7 linked regions of the Homo sapiens genome follow. The protein of the gene in region 1 purifies or fractionates together with the protein of each later gene. This does not show direct contact. Each region holds a gene or a part of one and is shown in the gene's direction. Other genes may lie near its edges. The genes, in order: SPOCK2, VPS4B, UXS1, COL14A1, SLC25A16, TEX15 and ZNF146.

What was found.
Region 2: the proteins of SPOCK2 (region 1) and VPS4B purify together in Homo sapiens (affinity purification with mass spectrometry; one large-scale study listed by BioGRID and IntAct). This does not show direct contact.
Region 3: the proteins of SPOCK2 (region 1) and UXS1 purify together in Homo sapiens (affinity purification with mass spectrometry; one large-scale study listed by BioGRID and IntAct). This does not show direct contact.
Region 4: the proteins of SPOCK2 (region 1) and COL14A1 purify together in Homo sapiens (affinity purification with mass spectrometry; one large-scale study listed by BioGRID and IntAct). This does not show direct contact.
Region 5: the proteins of SPOCK2 (region 1) and SLC25A16 purify together in Homo sapiens (affinity purification with mass spectrometry; one large-scale study listed by BioGRID and IntAct). This does not show direct contact.
Region 6: the proteins of SPOCK2 (region 1) and TEX15 purify together in Homo sapiens (affinity purification with mass spectrometry, with the first as the bait; one large-scale study listed by BioGRID). This does not show direct contact.
Region 7: the proteins of SPOCK2 (region 1) and ZNF146 purify together in Homo sapiens (affinity purification with mass spectrometry; one large-scale study listed by BioGRID and IntAct). This does not show direct contact.

Annotation. Positions count from the first base shown.
Region 1 is NC_000010.11:72,085,049-72,090,209, reverse strand, and holds the start of SPOCK2 (testican-2 isoform 2 precursor), read left to right. Parts: upstream 1-1,658; 5' UTR 1,659-1,881; coding exon 1,882-2,070; intron 2,071-3,217; coding exon of another isoform or gene 3,218-3,262; exon of another isoform or gene 3,263-3,984; intron 3,985-5,161. UniProt on the Homo sapiens protein: May participate in diverse steps of neurogenesis. Binds calcium.
Region 2 is NC_000018.10:63,388,032-63,391,998, reverse strand, and holds the end of VPS4B (vacuolar protein sorting-associated protein 4B), read left to right. Parts: intron 1-922; coding exon 923-1,024; 3' UTR 1,025-2,809; downstream 2,810-3,967.
Region 3 is NC_000002.12:106,096,354-106,101,033, reverse strand, and holds part of UXS1 (UDP-glucuronic acid decarboxylase 1), read left to right. Parts: intron 1-2,260; coding exon 2,261-2,318; intron 2,319-4,212; coding exon 4,213-4,316; intron 4,317-4,680. UniProt on the Homo sapiens protein: Catalyzes the NAD-dependent decarboxylation of UDP-glucuronic acid to UDP-xylose. Necessary for the biosynthesis of the core tetrasaccharide in glycosaminoglycan biosynthesis.
Region 4 is NC_000008.11:120,365,410-120,370,089, forward strand, and holds part of COL14A1 (collagen alpha-1(XIV) chain isoform 1 precursor), read left to right. Parts: intron 1-1,761; coding exon 1,762-1,839; intron 1,840-3,920; coding exon 3,921-4,076; intron 4,077-4,680. UniProt on the Homo sapiens protein: Plays an adhesive role by integrating collagen bundles. It is probably associated with the surface of interstitial collagen fibrils via COL1.
Region 5 is NC_000010.11:68,482,524-68,486,023, reverse strand, and holds part of SLC25A16 (solute carrier family 25 member 16), read left to right. Parts: intron 1-2,407; coding exon of another isoform or gene 2,408-2,435; coding exon 2,436-2,592; 3' UTR 2,593-3,500. UniProt on the Homo sapiens protein: May be involved in the transport of coenzyme A in the mitochondrial matrix. Very little is known about the physiological function of this carrier.
Region 6 is NC_000008.11:30,902,340-30,907,019, reverse strand, and holds part of TEX15 (testis-expressed protein 15), read left to right. Parts: intron 1-4,680.
Region 7 is NC_000019.10:36,221,002-36,225,681, forward strand, and holds part of ZNF146 (zinc finger protein OZF), read left to right. Parts: intron 1-4,680.

The DNA of each region.
Region 1 (5,161 bases):
GCTTTGCTAAAAACGAAAACAGAAACAAAAAAAAAAAAAACAACAAAAAACTAGGATTGTAGGATTGAGATGGTGGAAAAGATGGCAAATTTTGATGAATCTTCAGAACTATGGGACACCGTAGCCTTCTCTTCCCAACCAGAGGAAAGACTAACTTTTTAAAAAAATGCCCATTATGCCCACTTAGTATGTAATTTTGCTTGCACTTTACAGCAGTTTTAATGATGGTATTACCATTAGTTTTAGATAGAAAATAGGTAATTGCTCAAGAATCCAGCCAGTAAGTGGGATTCTGTCCTCTAGTCTCCACGACAGCAAGCCGTGCTCTCTCACTGTACAGCGCCAGGACACACCCAGGAAGAATGCTTTATTACTGTGAGATGAAGACGTCAATGGCCAGGGCCTCACTGCAGCACCACCACTAAATCCAACAGCAAAGGAAACAAGAAAACATGGAAAGGGAGCTATTGTTTTCTGTTTTCCCAACGAGACTCCGGCCTGAGCCACTGAGGCATTCAGAGTTCCCAGATAGGCCAGATTCAGGGTGACAAGGAACCTTGTAAGCTATGTTTTTTCCTACTGATTAAGATTATGTTTTTTAAAGCATTTTAAATTTTTATTTTATTTTTAGATCACAGCAGCTAAGTCTTTTTATAAAAACACAATCTAGGGCTTGGGTCCCAAAAGTTCACTAGGTTTTGTCCCATCAGATGATGTTTCCTCTTTAATGTATTTGTAATGTAAACCTGTCCCCATTTCTGCTGTGCTCTTGGGACTGTGGCCAGCCTCCAGCCTTCCCCGCTGGTATGTCAACATTTAAATCTACAGCCAATAAGGAGGGTCGCAGTTTCAACAAAACCCGAAACACCTCAAACAAAACCAGCACCCCACCCCAGCCCCCCACTCCCCGGCTTCCCCAGTGGCTTATTCAAACTAACTTGAAGTCAAAAAACCATAAGCAAATATGCCTTTTCCAAATTTGCAGCCTCCAAGGCAGATGAAATGGTCAGACATTTGCCTTTTAGGGTTGTCCTGGGAAGAGCTGACAAAACGGGTGACAGCCCCTAAACAGCTGCCTGGGGAGGAGGACATCTGCCTCTGTTTCACCAGCCACTCAGTGCTCAGGCCTTGCCTTGCGCAACGCGGTGCCGCTGGGGAGCAATGGTTCTGAGCAGCCAGTTGTTATACGGCTTTTGTCTTAACGAAGCCACCCATTACGGTAGAGCCATAACTCGCAGGAAGCCAGCTGTCAGGGCTGTGGCGCAGGCCCCTCTGGGTGGGAGGCAAGGGGAGAAAAACAGTGTCTGGCCAAATTCCCTTTCCGACACCTGAGCCTGGCTGGCTTTGTAACCGGAGAGTTTTGTGCCCTCTCCCCCATCCCATCTTCCCCGGGGAGATCCTGGGGCCCTTCTTGCTCTCCATCCTTTGAGGGAGCTCAGGGACATTTCGGGATTCTGGATTTCTTGGTCTGCAACTCCCTGTGTGCCAGGCGGGGCTGGGCCCCGCTGCGGCTGGCTGGCGTTTGGCGCTCTCATCGAGGGAGCGCTTCGCTTTGAAATCTACCCACTCCTTTTTTTTTTTTTTTTTTAAACCAGGTATGATGATGTCAAACGTGATGCTGATGCTACAGTTACAGCCCCTGCTGGCGCAGCCTCTCTGATTCTCTCTCCCTCTCCGCGTCCAGTGCTGGGCTTTTTCAGACAAGTGCATCTCCTAACCAGGTCACATTTCAGCCGCGACCCACTCTCCGCCAGTCACCGGAGGCAGACCGCGGGAGGAGAGCTGAGGACAGCCGCGTGCGCTTCGCCAGCAGCGGGGTGGGAGGAAGGACATTAAAATACTGCAGAAGTCAAGACCCCCCCAGGTCGAACCCAGACCACGATGCGCGCCCCGGGCTGCGGGCGGCTGGTGCTGCCGCTGCTGCTCCTGGCCGCGGCAGCCCTGGCCGAAGGCGACGCCAAGGGGCTCAAGGAGGGCGAGACCCCCGGCAATTTCATGGAGGACGAGCAATGGCTGTCGTCCATCTCGCAGTACAGCGGCAAGATCAAGCACTGGAACCGCTTCCGAGACGTGAGTCCGCAGGGCTGCCAAGGCAGAGACCCGGGGTTGCGGGTTCGGGGATTGAGCTCCGGGGTCTGCGGGAGCGGCCGCCGCACGTCGCAGCCCGAGGCTCCGCAGCCTGGCCGGCTAATTACACGGAAAGTAAACAGTACTGGGGGTCACAGCCCAGCGCCCCTCCCCTGTCCCTGCGGCCCGGGCCGGCGGCCCTGGGACCCCCCAGCCCCGGGACCCCCAGCTCCACACCTGCCCGACGCTCCGGGGTCGCGCGCTCCGGGGTCTCCCCTGCGGGCCGGGAGTGGGAAGGGGTGCGGGGCCGGGGGGACCCGGACCCCGGCTGCCGCTGGACCCCGACCCGGTCCCCAGCTGCGTTGTGCGAGCCGCCCCCGGGCCTGCCCCAGCCGCTGGGATGCTGCAGGCTGCACATACGGGGCACTGCAGCACCGGCAGGTCTGGGTGGGGCCGGCAGTGAGGGTGGCATCGGCTCGCGCGGTGCCCTCTGTTCCCACCGTGGGCTTTGCGGGAGGGGGACAGCATGGGACGGGAGTGTGACCGGGGCTCTGGGTCTGGGGTCCCAGCAGCCTTCTAGGCGAGATGGTGGAAGGCGTGTCCGTACGGGGGTGGGCTGGGGTCCCCGTGCAGAAGGGCGCGCGAGGACCCAGGCTGGTTTTCCCGGACCAACATTTCAGGGGGGAATCCAGCCTGGAGCGAGGGGAGCAGCTCGGAGCCAGAGGAAGGCTCCCGGCCCGGTGGGCTTGAGAAGCCGGGGAGAGTCCAGAAGCTGGGTTTGGGGGCCCCCGGCGGGCGCCGCCCGAACCCCGGCGTAACCTTGGGCCGAACTCCGCGGGGTGGGGGCGGGGGGGTAGCTGCGGCACTTTTGTTTACCGGCACCTGTGGATCAGAGGGGAAGTCGCAGGCGGCGGCCCGGCGGGGCTGGCTCCTTCCTCTCGGCCGGGCCGGGTTGGGGGCTGGGGAAGCAGGGGTGAGGCAGGGCGGGCGGAGGGTGTGGCTGGACCCCGAGATCGTTGGGGGTGCTGTGGGGGATGGGCCCGGATGCGCCAGAGGCGACGCCGGCTGCTCCTGGCGACCTGGTGCTCACCGCGGCCCTGACCCCAGAAAACCTCTTCTAGGACCCTGGCCCTTACTCCTCCTTCCCCAGGTTCCCTCGTCCGACCCACCCAGTACAACGCAGGCCACACCATGACCTCTCCCGTTTTCTCCTTAAACTGCGTGCATCCACAAGTTCCTTGGAAATTTGTTTAAAACACACATGCTTCATAGGCTATCCAGCCAAGTGATGGGAAGAGGCAGAGATTTGGATCTTTTTGTTACCGTCAGACAAGTGACTGTTTCTCCCCAAAGTCAAACTGGCAGGTTGTAATTCACAGAGGACAGCAGGAACCACGGGCAGCCAGGTCTCCAGGCTGAGTGGCCGGGCCCCGCGATGGGCTGCTGATCTCCGCCTTCGCCCCACATGCGACCTGTCCAGCCGCAGGAGCCTGGAGCCCCGCGAGGCCTTCCCGAAGCACCTGCAGGCCCAGCGCAGATGAGCCGCAGTCTCCTGCCGCTTCCTGGGCAGCAGCCCGGCCACAGCAGCGAGGGGGCGGCAGCAGGCCGGCCCATCCGGAATCCATGTGTCACTGGCCTAGGCCTCCCTCCGACTCGCTGGCTGTTTGATCTGCCAAAATGGGACCAGTGAAGGTCAGAGGGAAAAGAAATGCTTAATCAGAACAGGAAAGGTTTAAAATAAAAGATTCCTCCCCACCTCCCTTCTTCCACCTGCTTCCAATAGCCAGCTCCGTGGGTGAGAATAAATGACTTACTGCTTGACCCCATGGCACTGGGCTACCCACCTGTCTCTCTGTATTGGTGCCAACCACTTCCCCCTTCCTCTCATGCTCATCAGAAGAAAGGCACTAGATTTGAAAGTCTTCAGGACTTGCACATGTAAGATTCATGGGAAAGCTTTAGGTGTGTGTTGATTTTGGTAGCCTCAGGCTTTTGTAGGACAGATGTCCTCTAAAACCCCATTTAAGGTAGTCCTGGCTGCAGGAGGACAGGGTCAGGGAGAGAAGTAGGACAAAGAAGGCTGGGCAAGAGGGCCTGGCCCTGGGGATCTGTTGACAGCCTCTGCAGAAAGGCAGGAAGGAGGCTGCTAGCTCAGAGCCACTGCATTGCATAACTCTAGGGGTGCCACAATAGAAATGGTGCCCCCTGAAGTTGTGCAGTGCCCAGACAGTACACAGGGTCCCCACCAGCACTACAAACATATCCCTCTTCTGCCAGAAGAAGCCCTACTTCCTGCCTAAGGGCTGAAGGCACTCTAACTGGGCCCAGTAGCAACGGGCTTTATATTTCCATTAGGCCAGCTCTTTGGAAAATATGCTCCTTGGTTCCTCAAAGGAGAGAGGGGAATTTCGTTTGAACCCCTTAAGGGGTTACAAGGTTGAACTGGGACCTTGTTCATAACCCCAAAATGGTACAGGGCCCCCCTATTTGTCCTAGTAGGGTGGAGGCAAGCAGGACGAGTGGGATACTCTTGGGGAACAGGATTGGGAGGGAAATGCCTCATTCACATGGTGTGGACAGAACTGAAGGGGGAACTTGAGGGAATCAGGTTGAAAGGGTCAGGAGAATGAAGAAGAGCATGAAAACTTGGGGAGTTGCTCCACTTTGGAATTGGCCAGAGCTGGTTGAGAGGGAGCGCAGCTTAGCATCTTTCTCTGAGCACTAGGATTATAGGGAAGGCAGGATTTACCAGTTGAGTAATCCTCCCCTCCAGTGGGCTGAGGGCTCTTACAGCCTGTGCCTGGGTCGATCTCTTCTAATGCTGGGTGCCCGGCTGCCAGGGAGGAGGGGATTCTGGCAGAAGACGGGGGAGATTGTGGACTCCGCCTGGCTCCCTGGCCTACAGATCTAGCTGTACCCTGCCCTGGGCAGTCCTGGGCTTTTCCAAGCCCTGCTCTTCGATGCTCCTACCTCCCAATTCACTCCCTGCACAACTGGGTGGAATTTAATGCAGGTCTTTGGAACAAAGCATCTAGGGCCTAGAGGGATGGACACTTGGAGGAGACAGGTCCATTATACAGCATTCTTCAGGGCA
Region 2 (3,967 bases), on another chromosome or scaffold:
ATTTTTTGTACTTTGTTCAGCTTTGAAGAATTTTTAGTAACTTAGAGTGGTCCTTTTCATTATTTTTCATATCCTTTTACAGGAGTCTAGGCTTAGAAGTTAGTTTTTTAATGAATCTCTGATATTAGCATATTTTTCTAACCATTTCGATCTTAATTGTAACTAATTATTTTAAAATTCTGGTTAGTAGATTTTTCATAGAATGGTATTCTGCTTCACTTAAGTGTAAGTGAATGATATTTTCCTTTTGAATTATACTGACTTGGAAAATTGATCTCGTTTAAGAAAAAGAGATAAGGCCAGAAATTAGATCATGAACATACTTTGGAGGCCTTGATCCTCAGACTAAGGGGATTGTCCTTCTGATAAGTATTGGGGAGCCATTTGATCAGTTCAGGGGAAGAAAGTATACGTTTCTACACAAAGGAATAACATGATCAAAGATCATGAAAGATCTGTGAAAGAATAGGGGCCGGGTGCAGGGGCCCACGCCTGTAATCCCAGCACTTCGCAAGGCAGAGGCAGGCGGATCACCTGAGGTCAGGGGTTCGAGACCAGCCTGACCAACAAAACGAAACCCCATCTCTACTAAAAATACAAAAATTAGCCAGGTGTGGTTTCAGGTGCCTGTAATCCCAGCTACTTGGGAGGCTGAGGCAGGAGAATCTCTTGAACCTGGGAGGCAGAGGTTGCAATGAGCCAAGATCACGCCACTGCGCTCCAGCCTGAGCCAACAGAGTGAGACTCCAACTCAAAAAAAAAAAAAAAGAATAGGGAGTTTATCGTTAGTATCTTATGGCAGACTGCAAATATTCATATTTAAACTTAGGTTAAAGTTCATAGCAATAATGATAATATGACGGTTTTTTATTTTGTTAACTCTATTATTAATATCCTCCCTACCCTTCTTTTTCCCTGACAGTCGGATATGTTGCGGTCACTATCTAACACAAAACCTACAGTCAATGAACATGACTTGTTGAAATTAAAGAAGTTTACAGAAGATTTTGGTCAAGAAGGCTAAGCCAAAGACAAGGAAGATGCTTACCATATGTATTCTTTCTTTCATAGATATTTTTGTCTATTTGGATCGCATTAATTGTTTCCAGTAAAACTCTTTTACCACAGGGAAATACACATCTCACTTCAGAGTTCCATTAGGTTTTATATTGTACTTTTCCTCCATTACTTATTAAATACTCCTATTAACAAAAGGTACAAAATAACAGGTTATGAGGAAATGAGCGATATATGAACGGCATAAAAACAGAAATTACCCAGTAAAAAGGATGTCAGAAATTGACATACAAATATTTACAATTTTTATGAATGGTGGTCTTTGCAAAGAGCATTTATATTTTCTTTTTTTTTTACTAAAATGATATAGGGTTTATTTTATATTTTCAAAAAAATTGTTAAACATCATTCTTATCAATGTAAAATTTACGTTATTAAAAAATTACAAATGATAGAATCTTTACTCAGGGATGGGCAATAAAACAGCAAAGAGCTTTGTGATTGGGTTTGAAAGATTTTGAATTATAGACAGTGCTCTTAATAGTTTTTAATAAGTTGATATTTTTTTCTGTGTAGATTTAAATAATTTCTTTAAAAGCGTAAGCTTTGGCTGGGCATGGTGGCTTATGCCTGTAATCCCAGCACTTTGGGAGGCTACGATGGGTGGATCACCTGAGGTCAGGAGTTCAAGACCAGTCTGGCCAACATGGTGAAATGCCGTCTCTACTAAAAATACAAAAATTAGCTGGGCATGATGGCGAGTGTCTGTAATCCCAGCTACTCAGGAGGCTGAGGCGGGAGAATCACTTGAACCTGGGAGGCAGAGGTTGCAGTGAGCTGAGATCGCGCTACTGCATTCCAGCCTGGGCGCCGAGATAGCGCCATTGCACTCCAGCCTGGGCGACTGAATAAAACTCTGTCTCAAAAAAAAACAAAAACGGTAAGCTTTTATATTTAATTAACTGATACCTTTCACTGTGCAATCTCAAGAGGAAGATTTTCTAAATTAGACATTGTCTTTACCTTAAAGAAGAAAATTGTCTATTTCAGTGTCTTTTTTAGCAAGATTGACCAAAACAGGTGGTAGGTGTGTAATTTTTAACTGTCATGAAATACTGTAATGCGCACCTTTGCTAATAAGGAAATGGTCTCCCTTTGAATTATGGGAAGTTTCTTGTCTGTGATATGGGGTGTCTGTGTACATATATGTATATTTCCTTTTTTAATACAGGATAATAATATGGGGTCTTGTCCTTCACCTTTTAAGTTCAGGGAACAGTTTGTCCTGACCACACATATGTTATCAGTGTAATGCTTTATGAAGCTTTAGAAATGAGCTCATGACTCATTAAAAAATAATAAACGATGCTATTTTAATATTTTCAAATAAATAATCTGAGGATGTGTTTCATACTTTAGCATCAACGCTGAGTTGTGCCTTGTAGAATTGCATTGTCTATACATGCAAAAGACTATTAAGTTAGGATGAACTAGATTCCCTAATTACAGTGAAATTCTATCTTGCAAATGCTATAGAATAACTTGCATTTTAAAGTGTATTTGCACATTTTACATATGCTATGTGGTTGCCTTTGGGTTTTCTGTACAGATTGTTTTTGTTATTAAATGGAAAAGGCCTGAATTATGCTCTTATGTGAAGTAAATTGATATAACCTATTGACTGTATTCTGTGTATTATTCTTTATTTTGGGACCTTCTGTGTAAAAGAAAATATTACCTAAATTGGTTAGATACAAAGAAATCATTAAAATTATTAATGTATATATGAAAATTCTGTTTTTCAATGACTTTTATGTGAGGATTGAGAACTAACTTAGTAAACTAACACTGAATTCTTTGTGGATAAGATAATTTATACATCTTACCTGTTTATCAGCCTCAGAATTATACAGTACTGCTGTGTGTTCTTTATGGACAGATACTCAAAGGAATCCGAATGGGCATGTTCTATTTCTCTGGCTCTTGACCAGTAATTATAAAGTTTAGGTAGACATTTTCTGAGCCAGCAAGTAGATCATAGTTGTTAAGCATCTCTATGACTTACACCCTGGATATTTGAAAGCATTTTGTCTCACCCTGAGAAATCTATAAGGACTCTATAATTATAAAACATGTCAATAGAGAATTGACTTCTGAGTCCACTGTCAACTACATGCAGAAAAACAGAATGAGTGTACTTGATTAGTGCCACAGAAGCACCATTTAGCCACTTTCAGAGTTGATAAAGAGGCATACCTACCTGATGGTGCTGTATGTTGCAAGTGAAGCAACACAGTGCCCATTGTTGACACTAATGTTATTTTAAGTTTGTGAGTTTTCACAGGTGCCCTTTTCTTTCCTACTTTCATCCCTTCATTTGTATCCTCCTCTTATTTTAATATGGTATCTTTCTTTTTTTTGCTAGTCCACATCACGTATTTCCATTAAAACCTAATGATGATGAACCATGTAACCTCTTGCAGGAAGACCACCCAAACTACCCCCACCCTACTTTTGGGTTTCTTTAGCAGTTAAATTGCTGCTGCTGCTGTGTTAAGATTTTTCTCTGGAGCATGTTCTATTGATCATGTTTAGATCATTTAGATTGTAAGTTCTGAGAGTTACATTTTCCCCAGCAATTAATATAGTGTTGAGTGCTTTTAGGTACTTAGTAAAGACTTGGGGAAAAAAAAAGGGAGTTATATTTTTATTTTGATCTACCTCATGGATTATGTGAGAGACTTATAAAATAGGTAAGTTTATAAAGTGGCTTTGTTCTTACTGGTCTAGTGAAGTTATGATAAATTTCTGTCTCGGTGATTGAGAACTACACAATCAAAAATGTATTCAAACTAGCTCACCCTGGCCCACCAAAACCGATAGTACATCTTTCCCAGCTGCGAGTTCAGTGACCTCATACTAGTAATTTAAAGTCTGCTCTGATGGGAAT
Region 3 (4,680 bases), on another chromosome or scaffold:
TGCAGGACAGCTCAGACTTTCGTTCATTTGTGAAACCATGAGCAGCACCAGGCTTTGCTTCATTTGCCATCGGCACACTTAGGACATTTGTGTTTGTTGCTTGCTAAATACTAGAGGAAAAACAAACAAACACAAAGTAAGAGTATACAAAGAAGTAAAACATCTGCAAGGCACGGGTGAGTGATGTAATCAGTCCCTCCACCTTCTGAAGGGCCTGGGTCTAAGATTGTGTGAAGCCTTTTGGTGGTAGTAGGTGGACGTGTGTGTGCATCTCGTTCTCTATTTAACAGGCGGGTCATCATTATAAGGCCTGATTGCATTTTTAGAAGATGGAGGTTGTTCAGAGGGAAAATTTTCCGGTTGCTGATGATGTCTGTCATTTAGCCGGACAGACCACCTTCATGGCTTCTCGCCTTCCCTGCATGCCTGCCCACAGCCCCAGAACCTCCCTGTTGGAGGGATCATCCAGCCTTGAGCAGTTTCAGTGCTGGTGAACTTGCTTCTGCTCAGAGAAATTCACCCTGTCTTTGGACAGTTCTGGCCGGCAGAAAGCTCTTCCTCATATTGGACCAGAAATCTCACTTTCTGCACACCTGTCCACTGACCTCACTTCTCCACCTGGGGCCATTCATGGCTAGTGTGATGCCTCTACAGTGTGGTAACTCTCCAAGGATTTGAAGGAGATGGTCCTACCCCCTAAGCTGCCTCCTCCTTGGTGCATCAGCCAAGGTCATGGTAGGACCTCTTACCCTTTCTGTCACTGAGTGATTTTCTGAGCAGTTTTGTTCCATCTCATTTAAAATGCAAGGTTTCCAATGTGGACTGTCCAGCATTCAAGATGTTCTGCTTCTGTTGATGGCAGTGGACACAAGAACCTCTTAGCTCACAGAGACCTCCCCCTTAACCCTACCTTGGGGTCATTTCAGGTGCTTCTCCCAAATTACCTCTCCTGGTTCCTACACAACACTCTAAAGTTCAGGGAACTCTAAAATGTTGGCCATGTGACCTATTTCTTGCAAACCATGTCACCTTTGCTTATGCATGTCTTTGTAACCAGCCATCTCAAATACATTGCAGACCATGCATTTTTCCCTGAGGTGAAAGGGAATTCTCATCACGTAGGAAAGAATTGCCCTGGAGTGCTGACTCCATTCTGGGACTGTTGCTGATTCATGGGTACAGTGTGCCACTTTTGAAAAAAATTCACTTAAAACAGACCAGAACGTGCCTCACACTGTAAGCCTCATTTTGCTTGCAGCATTTGCCTGTGTACACTGGAGAGGCCCGAGGCGCCCCTGCTCTGCGTTTTTGTTGCAGGTTCTTTAGCAAGGGTGTTGTCAGTGACTTCCCTGGGCAGCCAGGCTCTTCTCTGTAGATACCATGTTCCTCCTTCCCTCTTTGGGGAGGGCCTTTGCACAGGGACAATTCCTAAAATTGGAATCGTGTGTCTGCCAGGAGAAAGGCAGAATCACTTTCTTGCAAATTTCCGTCACTCCACTTCGCTAGTCATCCCCTCTGTGCTCCATTGAGGCCCAGGGTCTCTCCCTCCACATTTACCATCTAGCTTCAGGCTAACCGAGGACCTGGGCATGAAGAGGCTTTAGGGTATAGAATTATCAGACTTTATGGTGGTCTCTTATGATGAGGGCAGTGGTGGCAGAGTAAGAGTAACAGGTGCTCTGATGTGTGATGGGAGGGAGAAAAAGAGCAAATGGTTTTCCTTAAAGCCCCCACACAAGTATTCTCTCTTCATGAAATGCATGGAGTTTGTCCTCTGGCTTGCCGGGGACACTCGCCTGTGAGCCTACTCATTTCTGCCTTAGCTTTTGGGTGTGAGATTACAAGTCCTTCATCACTGACATGGTTAACACAGCTCACCCAGACGGGAATAGATAGTGTTAGGAGAGCTAATTTTGTAAACCCAAGCTTTTATAAAAGTGACATTGAAGTTATGTTAGATATGGAAATTGTCTGATACTCAGTGAGTGTGTGCCTTCATCAGAAACTCTTGACCTATCCAAAGCCCAGCCTTGTACACAGCAGCCTAGAGGCTGAAGGTATAGATGGTGCAGTTTAGCACTGCCAGGTGAGTAACTGTCATCTTGGAAGCGGAGTACCCTCTGGCACACGGAGCTCTGCTGAAGCAGCGCAGGGAGGTCAGACTCGGCCAGTAGACGTCTCTGCAGACACGCCTGTGGTCTGGGTGGTGGATTGCTGCTGTTGTCATGACGCTTATAACTGGAAACCGTTTCTTTCTTAGGGGAACCCAGAAGAACACACAATCCTAGAATTTGCTCAGTTAATTAAAAACCTTGTTGGTAAGTAGGATAAGTCATTTCCTGAGTAAAATCGACTGTGCCTGCCCTATCTGTTAATAACACCTTGACTAGAAAGTGGGTAATTAATACAAGCTAATTGAATTGGATCAAAGCAGAACTTTTTATCAGGAATACTTAAGTGTTTTCTAATTTTTAAGGAATAGAAAGATAAAGGAGGGCAGGATTGGTTTCTCCTCAGTTTTCGTTGCAGGTTTGCATGAAGTGGGAGGGAGGAGGAGATTTGCTCCCAGTGTTTGAGGCACGATTGTATTAGATCATCCTACATGGGTGACAACTATTGGATTTCCGAACTGGTCATGTCAAGCATAGAATTTCAGACAGCAAGAGACAGCAACCACCAGCTGCGTGCTTCAGGCAGGTTTGAAATTCTGTTTGCAATTCTGGTTATCCTGGCTGCCACCCACTGGGGGCAGTGTAGCATTGGGAGCACCCCATCAAGGTGGACTCTTAGGCCATGAGAAGGTCAGGTCTTCCAGACCAGCCCTGGATTGCAGACATAGAGTGGATGAGCCCTTGGCCTCATCTTCAGACTTCCTGGAGCTCTGAGGAGTCAGACTCTTGGAGGGTGTCTGTTGTCTGGGGTTGATCCTGAAATTTGAGTGAAGTCACAACCAGACTAGACTGGCAGGTAGGCCAAGGAGGAGTATGCCACAGTGTGTCCTGAGGTGACCATTCAGACCCCGCTTGGCTGGGTTAATTCCTCCAGTGTGCCCTTCCTGGCATCAGGCTGCCATTCATCGGCATTGGTCTAATCGACCCGGATGGCTGGAATCCTCCCGTTGCTCGTGGCAGTAGAAGCAGCGGTCTTCCTCAGACATAGCCTGCATCATCTGTGGCTCCCACAGCTGCTCCGATGCACTTCCCAGCTTTTCCATCCTGAATCTGTGTGTTCCTCCTGCGTGAGGAAGGGGCAGGCTCAGATCACAGCTCTGTGCCATCCACTCCTTCACACCCTCACTGCACAGAGTGAGGCCCGTGGGCCAACGCAGCAGCAGCATCATCAGATGTGTGTTAGAAATTCAGACTCTCATGCCCTAGCCCAGGCCCCCAGATCAGGATCTGCCTGTTGACAGGCTCTTCAGGTGATCCGTGCGTGCTGACGCTTGAGAAACACTATTTGAAACCTAAGGCTGGGGGGAGGGGCGTGCAGCTTCCCTGCTGTGCTTCTGTATATAGCTTTGTGACAGACCATCCTGAACCACCTGTGGTGGTGATTCGCTGCAGAGTCTGCAATGTGGCCTCCATGACACGGAGGCAGGGAAAGCCTCCACAGGCTTTCTTCTGCAGGTCTGGCCCACAGTCACTGGTGGGGCTGTGTACTGCTGGCCAGTGGGGCCTGGGCCCAGCAAGGATGTGGAACAGGCCAGCCTTTGCCGTCCTCCGAGAGGTCCCTCCAGCTGGGTGGCTGCACATCTTGGGTCTCAGGGCTGTCTAGGCTCCGAGCACCCAGGTATGGCCCACTTGGGGCATCCACCTCAGGGATGGCCCCACACCACGTTTGTGGTCTCACACCGGGGTCATGCTCGGTGGGCACGTCTGCACTTGTTACCTGGTGTGGGTGGTCTGCCTTGGAGCAACCCTCTTGTAGTGGGCGGTAACTCAGGCCTGTTGAGACAGAATAACCTGCCCCCCACCGAGCTCTTGCTGGGCGCCTGCACACAGTCAGCTTGGCCACAGCAGTTGCAGGAGCACTCCCTGGACTTCCACGCAGAACAGTCCCTCGGGAGCTCCGGGGCTTCTCAGAGAACTGCATTTCCACCGCCTGCACCCTATTCACACCACATATGGGGTTTGCCTTTGATGTGGATGGTAAGGCTGTGCTTACCCATGCTTTGTGATTCTCTCCTACCTTTTTTTTCTTTAAACATCTCAGGTAGCGGAAGTGAAATTCAGTTTCTCTCCGAAGCCCAGGATGACCCACAGAAAAGAAAACCAGACATCAAAAAAGCAAAGCTGATGCTGGGGTGGGAGCCCGTGGTAAGTGCAGGGAGTTAATGCTGCCTTGTGGGGAGGGGCCTCCCGTGTCCTGTGTCTGCTGTCCTGTAGGCACTGACCCTTGTCAGACAGCCCCCGGAGGAGCAAGGTGGGCTCGGCATCCAGGCAGATAGAGGGTTTTCTCCAAGTGGTAAACAGCCTCTCCTGTATCAGGAGTCTCAGAGAATGTTACCTGGGAAGCGGCTGGAAGCCCCTGCTCTGGGCTCTGTTTTCGTAAAATCTCTCATGCACACACACATTCTTACATTCTCTCATACACATACACTGCCATACAAACACTTGTACACACATATACTCACACTGTCTCCCACACACTCACACTGTCATATATACACTGTCATACAAA
Region 4 (4,680 bases), on another chromosome or scaffold:
TTGTTCCCTGTTGGCAAAGTGACTCCAGTTCAAACAGAAGAGGATGGATTCTCGGCTAAATTCCCGGATGCACATTGGGGCATAAGCACTGACAAGTGAAGTAGTGCCTCTCAGCTAAAAACTACAAACTCCGATTAGCTACTAAACTAATGCCCAGTAGGCTTCCACAGCACGGTTTTCTGTCTGAACAACTTGATTAGCAATTGAGCATTAAATATTGGTGAGTCAGAGTTAGCTGTGTGCTTTTAAAACTCAGATGAGATGGTATTTTTACTTTTGAGAAATCATTGTTTTCCTTATGGGCTCCTAAGAGAAGAACCAGGCACTGAACAGAAAGTCACAGGCATGGTGGTTTGTGCCCTGGGCTGTCATGGAGATACTGGTCTTTTGTAAGCTCAGATAGCACCATCAAGGTGACATGCAATAGGATTGGGTGTTTGGGAATTCTAGCAATGAGTAGACCAACCTGGATGACTCCTAGTAAAGAAGAAGAGCTTTTTAAAAGAGATGCCAGGCTATGTCTTGACTGCAAGAGATCATTACGGGGAGCACAAAAGATACCAAAGCTGCAGGTTAGGAACAACCATTATATGTGCAGTGTAAAAACAAAAAACCAAAACCTGTTAGTTCCTCACCGGAGTCTTCTTTACCAGTGATTTCCAGAACAAATACTACATCAACACTTTTCTTTCTGGAAGTTATAAACTAAGATGTTAAAAGTGATTATTTTCAAGTGCTAGCATCTTGCTTGTTACATCTAATTTGTTGACAGTGAATATGCATTATATTTAAAGTAAACAAATAGTTATTTGCAATTTTAAAAAATTGCAAGGCCTTTCCATGCCTGCTACCTGTCAAATTGGCCATTTTTCACTTATTGATGTTTCCTTCTAGGCTTTGCCAATTCAACATAATTTCTCAGTAGGTATAATTAAACAGAGATGCTGTTCTGCATGCTGCTATTTCAAAGCATTGTTGTACACAAAAAAACAGACAGCAAAGATCTTCTATGATGTAAGCCAGGGTAACCCAGACCCCAGTCTAATGCAACCGTATCTTGGGCCTCAATATAGGCGCTCTCACCTTTCAAGTGATCTTGTGATAGGACCTGTTTAGATAATGAGGTGTCAGAGTATATGTTTCTTTGTTGTTTGCCTGTGAAAATGTATAGTTTGTTAATAGCACTGTAAATTATAAGAGGTCTGCTCCATGGAAAAGAAACATGAATAGATTTAGATTTTTATGGGGCTGAATCAGCCAAATCAAACACAGGCTTTTCTGAAGCTTCCAAGTTTTAATGGAAACTCACGCTCTTCAGAATGTTGCTGCCTAATTACAATTCATGCCTTTTGCAGACACATTACAGAGTGGACCAAAAGGAAAATGTTAGACGTGTTCACTTGTGATTTCTATTGTGTTACTTGTGGAGTGCCAGCTGCATAAGTCCAGTGGCCTGGTGCGTGCAAAGACAAGGACCAGTTCTTGGCAGGCTGTGTGACTTCAGTAGGAAGGAGAAAGAGAGACTGGCAGAATAGCAAATACAGACCACACACTCAAATACAGAACCAGACTTCAACATGTGATTCTACATATACTACCAATGTCAGAATGTAATTTAAAAGTCCCATGGTACTCATAACCCCAAACGAACCCACTTAATTGTCTTCATCAGAGAAGCACTTTCGAACTCCAGAAAAATGGAACTACCAAGATTTTCTTTTAAAAAGAACTTTAAACATTTTTAAAAATTATTTTAAACAGGTCTAACTGGTATCAAAGGAGAAAAAGGAAATCCAGGCGTTGGAACCCAAGGTCCAAGAGGCCCCCCTGGACCAGCAGGTAAATCTTCCTTCCTAACAAGAGACTGCAAATGTATATTTTTATATTCACTTGGCATTGCAAGTGAGGAAAATGGTCATCTTACATCCTAGTATGTAACTTAAATGGCTGTATTTCTTACTTGTTTTATTGGGAGGCTTCTTTGTTAATAAGGATCCTCCCAATATACAAGACCAAAAAGTTAGAGCATATTCTGGGATCTTATTGTTTGTGTGAGTTGCGATAGGACAGACTATGCTATAGTAACAAATACATCCCAAATGCTTAGTGGATTTACACAATAAAGCTTTATTTCACAATCACACAAAGTTTCATATGAATAAGGTAGCTCTCTTCCATCTCAGAACCCATGACCTCCATGGTGAATCATGTAGCCTCCAAGAGAAAGAAAAAGAAGGCACATCGGGCTGGGTGCGGTGGCTCACTCCTGTAAGCCCAGCGTTTTGGGAAGCTGAGGCAAGAGGATCACTTGAGGCCAAGAGTTTGAGACCAGCCTGGGCAATGTGACGAAACCCCATTTCTACCAAAAAAAAAAAAATACAAAAATTTAACCAGGCGTGGTGGCATGTGCTTGTAGTCCCAGCTACTTGAGAGGCTGAAACAGAGGATCACATGAGCTCTGGAGGTTGAGGCTACAGTGAACCGTGATGGTGCCACTGCCCTCCAGCCTGGGTGACAGAGGGAGACCCTGTCTCGAAAAAAAAAAAAGAAGGCACACCGGTCTCAACTTCCTAAACAGAATGAGATGTCACTTCCATTCACATTTTATTGTCTGGAACTAATCACCTAGCCCCAACTGAACTGCAAGGCAGACACAAAATTTAGAGAAATACAGGGCTATTTGGTGAGCACTAGTATTTCCTGCCATGGTAATCTTACTGAATGAGTTCTGTAAAAGTTTTGAGTTTTGTGTATTATATGCTTTTAGAATGGTCTCCAGATGATCAGGCTTGATATTAGAATTATTATAATTTGCAATCTTATTATAATATATATTTATAATGTCAGTCTTAGCCACATTAAGTAAAGTGCTTTACAGATTTTTCTTTCCAATCTAGTAAGGATTTTGGAAAATACTTTTTCTGAGAGAGGTTCCTAATGCAATTCATTTTGAGTGTAAATATTTCTGTTATTAGAGACAATGTGAGGAACTGATATAACATTACACATTACACAGAATGGGTGGTTGGTGAGTGCTGATTGAGGAGCTGAATATATGAGAGCCACCACGCTATTCAAATAGAAGGTGATACTTGTTCCTACTTTTCATTTCAGTTCTAGTTGAGAAATTCCATTATAGTTGAAGAATGCCTTTTCAACACTGTTGGAACCCGGACCTAAAAACAAGCATACAAGCCAAAAAAAAAAAAAAAAACATGCTGACAAATTTCTTCAATTCACAACAGTTTTAATCCTCCTATTTTTACTCAGTCTGAATTCTCAATTAATGTAAACTAGCTTAAAGAAATTTTGGATTAGTATATTGGGTCGAATGTCAAACTTGTCATTGGTCCCCTCCAGGACAATTTCACACTCATACAAATTTACTTTAATTATCTAGGGCCATAAACCAGTACTGAATTACATGGCTATTCTAACTGTTGATGAGGTTGAGCTTTAATTATCTGGGGCCATAAACTGGTACTGAATTGCATGGCTATTCTAACTAGATGATGAGGTTGAGCTCTGAGTGTGTTCATGTTTGTGTCTGTGTGTGTGCACGCCCATAGATTGGATTCATAAGGAACTGCATTGGGAAACAAAAGCTCCAAAAAGAAAATAAGGTTGATAATGGAAGGTTCCTTTCCCTTTAACATCCAAGAGGAAATAGAAAAGATGCATTTTGCTTGCCAGTTTCCTGAGCTGATTGAGAGCATTGACCTCCAGGAGGATAAGTGATTACACTATGACCCTCTGCCTAGGGAATCCAGTCTACAAAAAAGAACTCAATGAGTAGAAAGAGGTTGTCCTAATTGTCCTAAAAGTTGCTTCTTCTAAGAGTTAGTTTACTTCTTGGTTGTCTCAAAACTCACCCTGTTGTGGCAAAAGACCAACGGTTTTCATCTGTGGGTACTTCTTAGGACCTTCAGGGGAGAGTCGGCCTGGCAGCCCTGGGCCCCCTGGCTCTCCTGGACCAAGAGGCCCACCAGGTCATCTGGGGGTTCCTGGACCCCAAGGTCCTTCTGGCCAGCCTGGATATTGTGACCCCTCATCATGTTCTGCCTATGGTGTGAGAGGTAAGTGTCACAAAAAGCCCCGCTTGTGGGCTTTGATCAATGTTTTAGTATGCTTAGTACCAAAATGGGAAGATAGTGCTATGAAAAAAGTTAAATTGGTTATGAATGGGAAGCAGAGCTTGAATGCCTCACTTCCTTAAATTATCCCGAGACATTTTCTATAAAGTGCAAATTGCTATAGAGGCTACTCCCTTAAAAACCTTAAGAGCAAATTCAAAATAACAGCACATCTAAGTCTTCCTTGCTTCCCAGTGATGACCTACATAGACTTGGCCTCTGACTTTGTATTTAGCACATTTGGAGGACATGGTTGAACATTCTTTTGGAGTCTCCATTCTTATGTGACAGCTGTGATGTGGCCAAGACGTCCCATAAAATTTTACTCTTGGTTTGGGGAAATGTCAAACTTAGAACTTCTCCCGTAATTAAGAGGGCTCCTTAGATTATTTTCAATGAAATCATGCATACCACTTGCATTTAGGTGCATTTAAGCACCACATTTTAGGTGACCAAGAATAGTTGTGAGAGGAAACAAAAATCATGCTGTCCTTGTCTTATCACTAGCTACTGGACTAAAAGAATATGCTTCCTAAAACATCTGCAG
Region 5 (3,500 bases), 3.6 Mb from region 1:
CTGGTCTGGTACTCCTGGCTAACATGGTGAAATCCCGTCTCTAGTAAAAATACAAAAAATTAGCCGGGTGTGGTGGCAGGCACCTGTAGTCCCAGCTACTCGGGAGGCTGAGGCAGGAGAATCGTGTGAACCCAGGAGGCGGAGCTTGCAGTGAGCCGAGATCGCACCACTGCACTCCAGCCTGGGCGATAGAGTGAGACTCCATCTCAAAAAAAAAAAAAAAAATATTGCTTAGGAGGCTGAGGCACGATAATTGCTTGAACCCAGGAGGCAAAGAGCTGAGATGGCGCCACTGTACTCCAGCCTAGGTGACAGAGTGAGACTCTGAAAAAAACAAAAAAGGCCTGTCGCAGTGGCTCACGCCTATAATCCCAGCACTTTGGGAGGCAGAGGTGGGTGGATCATGAGGTCAGGAGTTCAAGACCAACCTGGCCAAGATGGTGAAACCTGTCTCTACTAAAAATACAAAAAAAATTAGCTGGGCTGGTGGCAGGTGCCTGTCATACCAGCTACTCAGGAGGCTGAGGCAGGGAATTGCTTGAACCTGGGAGGCGGAGGTTGCAGTTAGCCAAGATCATGCCACTGCACTCCAGCCTGGGCGACAGAGCGAGACTCTGTCTAAAAAAGAAAAAGGGCTGGGACGCGGTGGCTCACACCTGTAATCCCAGCACTTTGGGAGGCTGACGCGGGAGGATCACAAGGTCAGGAGATCAAGACCATCCTGGTCAACATGGTGAAACCCCATCTCTACTAAAAATACAAAAAAATTAGCTGGGTGTGGCGGTGTGCGCCTGTAGTCCCAGATACTCTGGAAGCTGAGGCACAAGAATCACTTGAGCCCAGGAGACGGAGGTTGCAGTGAGCCGAGATCGTGCTACTGCACTCCAGCCTGGCAGCGAGGCTGCGTGTCAATAAAAAAGAAAAGAAAAAGAAGAAAAAATATATATATAATTGTTAAAAATATTTTTTGTTTAACCTAAACTTTTATCACCTCAACATTTCATTATTTTGTTTCTTTTTTTTAAATACAAACTATTTGAAATCCAGGGTGTATTTTACACTCACAGCACGTCTTGATTTGGACTGCCACATTTCAAGTGCTTAATAGCCATATGTGGCTAGTGGCTGCTGTGATTGTATAGCACAGCTCCAGAGTTTTCTTTATAGTAATTTAGAACCATTCCATTTGATTGGTGATATGTTGTCTCTCAGGGGAAGAGCAGAACATTTGTTCATGAATTTGGATTGCCGTGTTCACCCAAAAGATTTTTTGGGCTGGGAGCATTACCCTGTGCTTGTTGTATCCAGCTACTTGAGAGGCTGAGGTGGGAGGTTCACTTGAGGCCAGGAGTTTGAGATCAGCTTGGAAAACATTGTAAGACCTTGGCTCTAAAAAAATTTTTTTTAACTAAAAACAAACAAACAAAAAATTTAGTGAGGCATGGTGGTGTGTGCCTGTAGTCTCAGCTACTGAAGAGGCTGAGGTGGGAGGATTGCTTGTGCCCAGGAGTTGGAGGCTGTTGTGAGCTATGATTGCCACTGCACTCCAGCCTAGGCAACAGAGTGAGAACCTGTCTCTTAAAAAAAAAAAAAAAAAAAGATTTTTGAAAAGATTTCGGTCCAGATTGCCTATTGAAAGGGAAAGCCCAAGCCCAAATTATTGGTTTGAAAGGAAAGGAACAACTCTGAAACAGGAAAGTGTTCATTGCTGAAATCTGAAAGATAGTCCTTCAAGCTTTAGTTCTATAACCACCTGCTGTTGATACTATACAACTTGAGCTATAATAAAGGCTTAAAGGGCAACTGGATATACATCCTTTAAAAGGATTGCATTAGTATTTCAAATATAAGTATGAAATAGTTGTTGTCCAGTAAATGTCATAGACATAGTACAAACAAAATATGTTGTACTAATGAGTCCTGAAATTTGATGCATAATGCTTGTACTTGTTTAGAATGACTTGCCTTTTTATTATGAAAAAATTTTCACTTGTTAAAACATTTGTCTTTCTAAAGCTATTCAAGATGGCATTTAACCTTCTTTAAAAATTAATATTATGGGCCGAGCGAGGTGGCTTATGTCTGTAATCCCAGCACTTTGGGAGGCCAAGGTGGGTGGATCACCTGAGGTCAGGAGTTTGAGACTGGCCTGGGCAACATGGAGAAACCCCGTCTCTACTAAAAATTACAAAAATTAGCTGGGCATGGTGGCGCGTGCCTGTAATCCCAGCTACTCAGGAGACTGAAGCAGGAGAATCACTTGAACCTGGGAGGCAGAGGCTGCAGTGAGCCAAGATCATGCCACTGCAATCCACACTCCCATCTGGGTGACAGAGCAAGAGTCCATCTCAAAAAAACAAAATTGATATTATGGATCCTGAAATTGTTTCTTCATGAGTGGGCATAGAGGTCATCATTTAATCATTGTCTTTCAGTACCATGCGGGATACTATGAAGTATGTCTATGGACACCATGGAATTCGAAAAGGACTCTATCGTGGTTTATCTCTTAATTACATTCGCTGTATTCCCTCTCAAGCAGTGGCTTTTACAACATACGAACTTATGAAGCAGTTTTTTCACCTCAACTAAAAAAAAATTATGGTTGGTTTTTCTTAATACATTCTCAGAGGGAGAAATGAAACATTACTATAATTGTGGGGGGAACATTACTTGAATGGGGATATTTACCCTGTCACAAGAGCCACTGGTATTTTAGTACTTGATTATTTTTTCTTTAGTCACAAATCAGAACTGCTTACCATACTTTTTGATGCCAAACATTATACCTTAGAACATTGAAGAAAATATTCCTAAGCTGATGCTGGCTAAACCGCTTTAAAGTTTTATTTGGAAGTAGAACTAGCTTTAAAACGGGGTTCAAGAGGTTGCCATTAGCTTTGTCATGCTGTTCAAAGTTTTTAATTGTTATCATGGTTTTTAAAAGACTGACAGTGTTTATTATTATTAAAATAAACAGGGTTGGTTATATTGCAATAGAATAATGAGAATTGAATTTTTAAGTTCTATGAAACAGCCAGCATTGACATTTTATTTTTGTTATCTCTCTTCTCACAATTATGCTCCACTGGATAATAGGAAAAACACTTCTTTCCTTCATTTTTTAAATAAAATTAATGTTGTATTTAAAAGGTAGCCATGTAGAGACACAAAAATAAATGAAGAAGCTGGACATGGTGGGATGGGCATGTGGTCCCAGCTACTCTGGAAGCTGAGGTGAGAGGATCACTTGAGCCCTGGAATTCCATGCCAGCCTATGCAACATCATGAAACCCCACTTAATAAATGAATGAACGACTAAGTCTTGCTCAAATGTTATTATGAGGTACTATGAGTGACTTACATGTGTTTTAAAATGTCAGTGTGTTTCCCAGAGGCAGAAATAAAAATACTGAATATCTTTGCTCTTAAAAAAAAAGTAACACTATAGATTTGTTTTTGTTAGATGATTTGCTCTATAGTAGAATATTTAAGTAGAC
Region 6 (4,680 bases), on another chromosome or scaffold:
ATCTGTATGGTATGTTTTATATAAAGTCACATTTGGCCAAGGAGTAAGAATCAGCTTAAGTGAACAGCAAAAGAAAAAAAAATTGTTTTAAGTTCCTCAAATCCATTTTTCTCTCTAGAAAATGCAATTTTTTGTGTCTTTCAAGCCCATGCTAATCAATTAAACCTAGTGTCTTTCTGTGCCTTGGTTTTTTCATATGTAAAATGGAAAATTTTCATACGTAAAATGGGAAAATCTGCTTATAAATTATTTTGGTTGACTGTCTTCTGCAATATTGTCTTTTTCATGGGTCTTTCAAGCCTATTCCCAGCAGTTAAACCTAGTGTTTTAGTTTTTCCTAAGGTATTACATGCCTGCTTATCCAAGGTACAAATACAAGCACTTTAATATATGCTTGTTCTCTCTCTCTTTTTTTTTTTTTTTTTCTTTTGAGATGGAGTCTTGCTCTGTCACCCAGGCTGGAGTGCAGTGGCACAATCTCGGCTCACCACAAGCTCCGCCTCCCGGGTTCACATCACTCTCCTGCCTCAGCCTCCTGAGTAGCTGGGATTACAGGTGCCTGCCACCACACCAGGCTAATTTTTTTTTTTGTATTTTTAGTAGAGATGGGGTTTCACCATGTTAGCCAAGATGGTCTTGATCTCCTGACCTCATGATCCTCCCACTTCAGCCTTCCAAAGTGCTGGGATTACAGGCGTGAGCCACTGCGCCCAGCTGCTTGTTCTCTTTTAAGGCTAAAACAGAAACAAAGACTTCCCAGGTCAATAAATAATATAACTATTTGAAGAAGAATGGAGGAATGTTAGATGATTAACATTAAACTGTGAGGATTAAAATATTATGCCTCTTTATTTGATTAAACATACATTAATAATAATAGCCAATACTTATATAGCGCTTTACCATAAATGAGTCACTGTTCTGTGTGTTGTAGTAATCAATATAGCAGAAGAGTGTTGATTAACTGAATTAATCTACTAAATACTGTTATTTTTTTCCCATTTTACGTATGAAGAAACTGAGGCACAAAAGTATAGGTAATGGGTCTAGCGTTGCAGTCAGTAAGGGGCAGATAAAATTTGGGTTTTGGGGGTTTTCTTGTTTGTTTTGTTTTTTGAGACAGGGTGTCACTCTCACCCAGGCTGGAGTGCAGTGGCATGATCACAAGGCTCATTGCAACAGCCACCTTCTGAGCTCAAGCAATCCTCCCACCTCAGCATCCCGAGCAGCTGGGAATACAGGTGTGCCACCATGCCCAGCCTTTTTTTTTTTTTTTTTTTTTTTTGTATTTTTTGTAAAGACAGGTTTTCGCCATGTTGCCCAGGCTGGTCTTGAACTCCTGAGCTCAAGTGATCCACCGGCCTCAGCCTCCCAAAATGCTGGGATTATAGGCGTGAGCCACAGACCAGGTGGTCTGGCTTCACCAAACTGCCACCAAAAATATTATCTCTTATCCATGGCGTGAATAAGTCAAATAATTTTCTCTTAAAAATAATCTATCTGAATTATGCTAAATTTTTTAGAGGAAAATTTTTTGCTTGGTACAAATTTGCAGTCTGAAAATTACTCTATTTTGGTGATCTGGTATTTAATATGACAATTCAAAAGTAGGACTAAAATTTTTAGTCTGACAAAGGAATAGCAGCATCCCAAGAGTTCATTCTCTGCCTAGAATGCTATGACCAGTACTCCAGTTTATTTCTCCTGGGGACTCAATAATATTCAACTTTTGCCTACAGTTTTTTTTTTTTTTTTGAAGTCTTTTTAAGTCTTCAGTTGGTCTATTTGGTATAATTCCCACCAGGTTTGTTGCAGTACTTTGACATTGCACGATCAAACAGTTTCTGAAGAATTTTTGAGAAGCCTGTTTGTTACTAAAGTCAGGTAGAATCTTAAAATGAATGTTAGAAGTAGACAAGTTATATTAAAATTCATTCTTGATAGGGACATTAGTAAGAAGGCACATGAATTGCTAGTTGTTAGCTTTGTTACCCCCACATTTAATGTAAGTACCTAAAGAAAATGTGTAAGTGAACTCTTTCATGAGAAAGATGTATAATTAGATACATTTAGAAATTTATAATTGTGTATTAGTGTTTTTCTGGGCATAACTCCATTACAGTATTAGATAACTTGTTTTAACCTTATCAAGTAATACATTTTTTTAATTTTAGGTTCAGCAGATCATAAAAGGTGAATAATGGTCAGCAGCTATGTTTTTCATACTAAAATGTGGAAAATAAAGCTGTTGACTTCTTTGAATTAACACAGAAAGATAGTTTAATGTTTTAAAATGGGAGGAATATTTTATATGCAAGATGACGTCATGCACACCTCATTGACATTGAAAGAGAAGCTGAGGAATACTTGTGGTTTTTAACCGGAAAACAACTCACAGGGGGAGGAAAAGTTGATTCAGTATTGGTCAATCCTAGTTAGAAATTTATGAATTTCTAGTTAAAAATGTATTACCTATATAGCTATTTTCCTACATTAATCAAAATGAATTGTGTGAATATTTAGTTATGACCAATTTCAGGGTTTAAATAAGGTCCTTTTTTTTTTTTTTTTTTGAGACGGAGTCTCACTCTGTCACCAAGGCTGGAGTGAAGTGGCACCATGTTGGCTCACTGCAACCTCCATCTCCTGGATTCAAGCAATTCTCCTGCCTCAGCTTCCTAAGTAGCTGGGATTACAGGCGCCCACCACCACACCCGGCTAGTTTTTATATTTTTGGTAGAGATGGGGTTTCCCCGTGTTGGCCAGGCTGGTCTCAAACTCCTGACCTCAGTTGATCCACCCACCTGAGCCTCCCAAAGTGGTGGGATTACAGGCGTGAGCCACTGAGCCCAGCCTAAATAAGGTCGTTTTATTATTATTTCCTTTCCAAGACTTGTAGTTATTAATTCCCTTGAAAGTTGTGTCATTATCTTTAATCATCTGATTATTTCTTTGTATTTCCCTAATGTCTTTTAAAAAGCCTCATAACCATAATAGATTAGTAACTAATCCCTGTGCTTTTATGACAATTCCCAACTTCTTTTGCATATAATTTCCATCTGTTTGAGCAGAGAATACACTCAGTTTGGGGTTGTACATGATTGATCTGTCCTCATCTTTCACAACCTATTAGCACAGTCATCTTCCATATTTCATACCCTTCTAACACCATATCTGATTTCAAGGACCTTGGCAAGGTAATTATCTCTCTGTTTATATCTGCATAGGGAAGACAAGTGGCTTTAAGCAGGCAAAGTGGTGACTTTTTTGCCATTCTCAGTTTTTCGCTATCAGTAACACAGAGGATGGCATTTGTTATATTTAATGCTTGGGCTGAAAAAAGAATGCTGATTTGTAGAAGGATAGGTAATCCAGGTAATCTTCCTGGTGGAATAAGATGCAAGTTATCCTGTGCTAGCTTACTTTATGGTAGAGTGGGTCTATTTCAGTCAAGCCAGTCAGAATATGTCCTTTTTGAGAAAGCTGAAGGAAGGACTAGGACTGAAGGATTGAGTGAAAAGTTGAGCTGTTTCTCACCTTTCTCTGCAACCAGGATGACCTTGGCCTTTTTGTGGAACTCAATCTGTTTGTACTGCAGCTCCTAGACTCCAAAGGGAAAGAAACCAAGGGAGTCCTAACCCCTGGGGGCCCCTTAACTTTGATTTTTCCCCGTGATGAAAAGCAGCTGGACTGGAAGTACTCCTCCCCATAGCCTGGGCTCTTGGGACAGTCTTTTAAACATGTAAATTATTTTTAAGTCTGCTCTCATTTGACTATATAATTAGATAGATACAGGATCCTCCTTGGACCTAGAGGAGAGCCTGCCCCAAATTTTTAGAGAAATACATCCATACAGCATAGGTCATTAAAACAAGATTATAATTTGAGTCATCACAAAATCATGGAAATCTTTGAGTGCCAGTTTTGGCTTCTAGTTTGGGAAACCCTTCATAATGGAGGTTGGTTGATTCAACATAGACTATGTAATATGCATTATCAAAATAAAATAGTTTAACCACATAGTTTAAAAGCATAATCCCTCTCTTGCCTTTTCCCTGAGGGGCAACAGACAAAGTCTGTGCAATAAATATGAACACCTTGAGAAATGTACTGGTAATCCTCAGACATTTCCTTCCTGGAATACTTAAATTCTACTGTGCTTCATCACCTAGATTGGTGGTTCTCAAACTGTCGTTTCTCTTCACTATCAATGTCACCTGGGAATTTATGAGAAATAAAAATTCTTGGGCCTTAAACATACAGAATTAGAAACTCTGGAGGTGGGACCCAGTAATCTGTATTTTAATAAGCCCTCTAGGTGATTCTGATACACACTGAAGTTGGAGAATCACCAATCCCTTTGATCATCAAGGATGAACCATAGTTTTTTGCTTTGCTGGTCTGTTACTTCACTATAAATATTTTATTGCCCATGTGGATATTACTGCATGTGTATACCAGGAATTGGCAACCTGTGTTAGTACTACATTGAATGATACCCAAGTTAAAATTGTTAGTGACCTTCACAGTTCTTTTCTACTTCCTTGTCTTCCTTCTTGCAGAGTGCCTGAAACAAGGTAGCCACTGGATAATTTGTTAATTGAATGCCTATCTTCCCCCCTTCCTGCCCTCCCCCTGCAAAAAGCAAAATCACGTTTTCATTTATCTTTTGGTTTCTTC
Region 7 (4,680 bases), on another chromosome or scaffold:
ACCATGACGCCTAGCTAATTTTTGTATTTCTAGTAGAGACAGCGTTTCACCATGTTGGCCAGGCTGGTCTCGAACTCCTGACTTCCTACTCGTCTTGGCCTCCCAAAGTGCTGGGATTTCAGGCATGAGCCACTGAGCCCAGCTTTTAAAATGCATCTCACTAAAGATGTATGTAGTCAAAGAACTCTGTTCTAAAGTCATTTGAAATCGTTTTTCTGAGGAATTATGTTACTAAATTAACATACAGTTGGGTTCATTTGTTGTTTTCAGGTTAAGGGACTGCTTTTTTTTTTTTTTTTTTTTTTGAGACGGAGTCTCACTCTGTCCCCTAGGCTGGAGTGCAGTGGCGCAATCTCGGCTCACTGCAAGCTCCGCCTCCCGGGTTCACGCCATTCTTCTGCCTCAGCCTCCCGAGTAGCTGGGACTATAGGTGTCAGCCACCACGCCCGGCTAATTTTTTGTATTTTTAGTAGAGACGAGGTTTCACCATGTTAGCCAGGATGATCTTGATCTCCTGACCTCGTGATCCACCCGCATCAGCCTCCCAAAGTACTGGGATTACAGGCTTGAGCCACCGTGCCTGGCCAAGGCACTACTTTTTAAAAAATGAATTTGATTACTATTGAAGTAAGTAATGCATTTCTGTGATTCAACAAAGATCTATCTCACAGAGATATCTCATTCTGCTCCCTTCCCCCAGTCACATTCTTCTTTGTCTTATGTAAACATGTCTTGTTTTTTTTTGTTTGCTTCTTGTTTATCCTTCAAGTGGGTTTTTTGTTTTTTGTTCTGTCACTATTATATATTTCTCTTCACTCCTGTTTCCCTCCACCTTACATAAAAGATAGCATACCACATGCACCTCCCTATATCTCACTTTCTTTAATAACAGTATGTCCTAGAGATAGCCCTTCCTTTTTTCTTTCTTTTTTTTTTTTTTTTTTTTTTGAAATAGTCTCGCTCTGTCACCCAAGCTGGTGTGCAATGGTGTTAACATGGCATACTGCAGCCTCCAACTGCTGGGCTGAAGTGATCTTCCTGCCTCAGCCGCCTGTGTAGCTGGGACCACAGGCACACTCCACCACACCTGGCTTTTTTACTTTTTGTAGAGATGAGGTCTCACTGTTTCCCAGATTGGTCTCGAACTCCTGAGCTCAAGCAGTCCTCCTCTCTTGGCTTCCCAAAGTGTTGGGATTACAAGTGTGAGCCACTGCACCCAGCCAAGGTGTTCCTTCTTAATCATAATCTTTAAAAGAAATTTTTTTTTCAGCTGCTGTATAAATAAGATGTCATTATTTGGATGCACCATGGTTGATTCAGTTAATCCCGTTGTTGAGCATTTGGATTGTTTCCAGTCTTCTGCTGTTGCTAACAATGCAGTAATGAATAATTTTTTTATGTGCGCCATTTTATACTGACACAGGAGTAGCTCTAAACTAGACTGCTATTAATACAAATGGCGCTGCCCAGTGGGTAAGTACTTACACTCCCACAAGCCATGTGCGAGAGCGTCTTCCCCTTAAACTCACCATGAGTGTAGTGTCGAATATTTGGTATTTCGCTAGGGACATAAGAGACAATCTGAACTTCAGTGTAGGTTTCATTTACATCCCTTCTTATGAATGAGAATTTTTTTTTATATGTTTAAAGGCCTGTATGTATTAATCTAGGAACTGTCTATTCATATCCTTTTCACCATTTTTCTATGGGGTGTCTTCTCCTTAGAGGAGCTGTTTATAAATTAGAAAGGTTAGCCCTGTATGAAATGAGTGGTGGCTTTTTTTTTTTTTTTTTTTGAAGTTTTCATTTGCATTTGGACATTGTTCACAGTGGTTTCTTTTTTTTTTAATCTTGCAGAAATAAGAGGTTTTGTTTTAATTTAGTAATAATAGTTTCTTTTTTTACATAGCCGTGCTTAGAATGAGCCCCCTGTGGTTGGTGAGCACAGAGACATCCCCGCACCACACCAAAGACCTTTTTATTCATGTATTTTTTAGAGGCACAGTCTCACTGTGTTGCACAGGCTGGCCTTGAACCCCTGGGCCCAAGCAAGTCTCAGACTCCCAAGTAGCGGGGACTACAGGCAGTGCACCACCATGCTGCTATGGTTTTCTTTTTATTTTCAAAACTTTTGGCTGGGCGCGATGGCTCACGCCTGTAATCCCAGCACTTTGGGAGGCTGAGGCGGGTAGATCACTTGAGGTCAGGAGTTTGAGACTAGCCCGGTCAACATGGTGAAACCCCGTCTCTACTAAAAATACAAAAAATTTAGCCAGTCATTGTGGTGCACGAGATCACACCACTGCACTTTAGCCTGGGCAACAGAGTGAGACTCCGTCTCAAAAAAAAAAAAAAATCTAGTTACATTTTTTTCTTTTTGAGATGGAGTATCTCTCCGTCCCCCAGGCTGGAATGCAGTGGTGCGATTTCGGCTCACTGCAAGCTCCGCCTCCCGGGTTCACGCCATTCTCCTGCCTCAGCCTCCCAAGTAGCTGGGACTACAGGCGCATGCCACCACGCCTGGTTAATTTTTTCGTATTTTTAGTAGAGACGGGGTTTCACCATGTTAGCCAGGATGGTCTCGATCTCCTGACCTCGTGATCCGCCCGCCTCGGCCCTCCAAAGTGCTGGGATTACAGGCGTGAGCCACCGCGCGTGGCTGATTCATCAGTCTTTTATGGTTATCAGACTTTTCCACTCTTAAGTTTCACCGATATTTTCAAATTCTTATAAAGTTACAGTTTTTTGTTGTTTGATTGTTTTAGAGTTGGATCTTGATCTGTCACCCAGGCTGGGGTGCAGTGGCGTGATCACAGCTGACTGCAGCCTTCATATCCTCGCTAATTTAAAAAAAAAAAAATTGTAGAGATAAGATCTCCCTGTGTTGCCCAGGCTGGTCTCAAACTCCTGGGCCCAAGTGATCCTGCTACCTTGGCTTCCCAAGTCAGAGCAATAGTTTTTTTAAGATTTTGTTTTTATTTTAATTTATAATCCATTTAGATTTTATCCTGGTGTATGCTATCAGATATGCATCCAGCTTTACCTTTTTCCAATTGGCTACCACGTTCTTTGACATCATTTATTAAAAGGTCTTACCTGGCTGGGCACGGTGGCTCACGCCTGCAATCCCAGCACTTTGCAAGGCCAAGGTGGGTGGATCACTTGAGGTCAGGAGTTCGAGACCAGCCTGGCCAATATGGAGAAACCCTGTCTCTACTAAAAATACAAAACATTAGCTGGGTGTGGTGGCACATGCCTGAATCCCAGCTATTCGGAGGCTGAGACAGGAGAATCGCTTGAACATAGGAGGGCGGAGGTTGCAGTGAGCTGAGATTGTGCCACTGCACTGCAGCCTGGGCAACAAGAGCCAAACTCCATCTCACACACATTAAAAAAAGGTCTTATGTTTACTATTTTTAGGATGCCACTTTGATTATATACTAAATTCTCACATTTATTTGGTCTGTTTCTGGGTGTGAGCAGAAAGACTGAGGACACTGCTATAGCCCAGGTGTAACAACCAGGGAAAATATTTATCTTTTTACTATTGAGGCTTTATCATTGTGTTTTACTTTGTGGTATAGCTAGTCTCTTAATTGCTCGTCCTTTTCAGTGTTTCCTGGCTATTCTTGCCTGTTTATTTTTCTTTGTAAATTTTAGGATTAGCTTGTCTCGTTCCAGAGGGGGAAAAGGTAGAACTAGTTTGTTACTTTTATTGGGATTGCATTAAATTTATAAAATAACTTGGGAATAGGGACATTTTTATGACATTAAATATTCCTCTTTATGTACGTGATACGTATTCTCGTTTCTTTTTGGGTCCTCTAGGGTGTTTTAAAATTTTTTTCATACAGGTTTGGACACTTCTTACTAAGTTTATTTCTGGATGTTTTGTTTTATGTTGCTATGAATGGAGTCATTGTTGGCATATATGAAGCTGTTGATTTCTACATACTAATATTATTCCCTGCTTTCCTTAGTTATTTGTAATTAGATTATATAATTGAGGCAGTAGGCATCCTTGTCTGTTTAGAATCTAATAGAAATGCCTTCAGTGTTTTTCTATTACTTTTATTATCATGATTTGCTTTTCAGTGTTTTTACATTAGATAAGATACTGGCTTTTGTGGTCAGATACAGATTATGATTATATAAATATAGATTACCCATGCTGCCTGGGTCAGTGGGAGTGTGAGCAGAAAGACTGAGGACACTGCTAATAGCCAAGGTGCAACAACCAGGGAAAATCTGTTGATTGAGGAAACAACAATCCCTCAAAATTTCGTTATTGCATCCTTAAACAAAAAATCAAATGGGACAAAAATAAGATGTCTATTCCTATTCTTCTGTTTTCTGTCGATTCCCTTCTTTTGGGTGACTGTTTCTTTACTCATTTCCTCTGTTTATCTTTTGTGGTCTATTTATAGCTTTGCTTCCTTCTTAAAAGTTTTGTGTCTTAAGTTCATTTTGTTATGTTTCAGTTTTCATCTGCTTTGTGATTCTTACTTTTTTTTTTCTGGCTCACTGCAACCTCAACCTCCTAGGCTCAAGCAGTCCTTTTGTCTCAGCCTGTCAAGTAGCTGGGACTACAGGTGCATACCACCATACCTGGCTAGTTTTTTTGTATTTTTTTTTAGTGCTAAGCACGCTGGTCTTGAACTCCTGGGCTCAAGCAGTCTA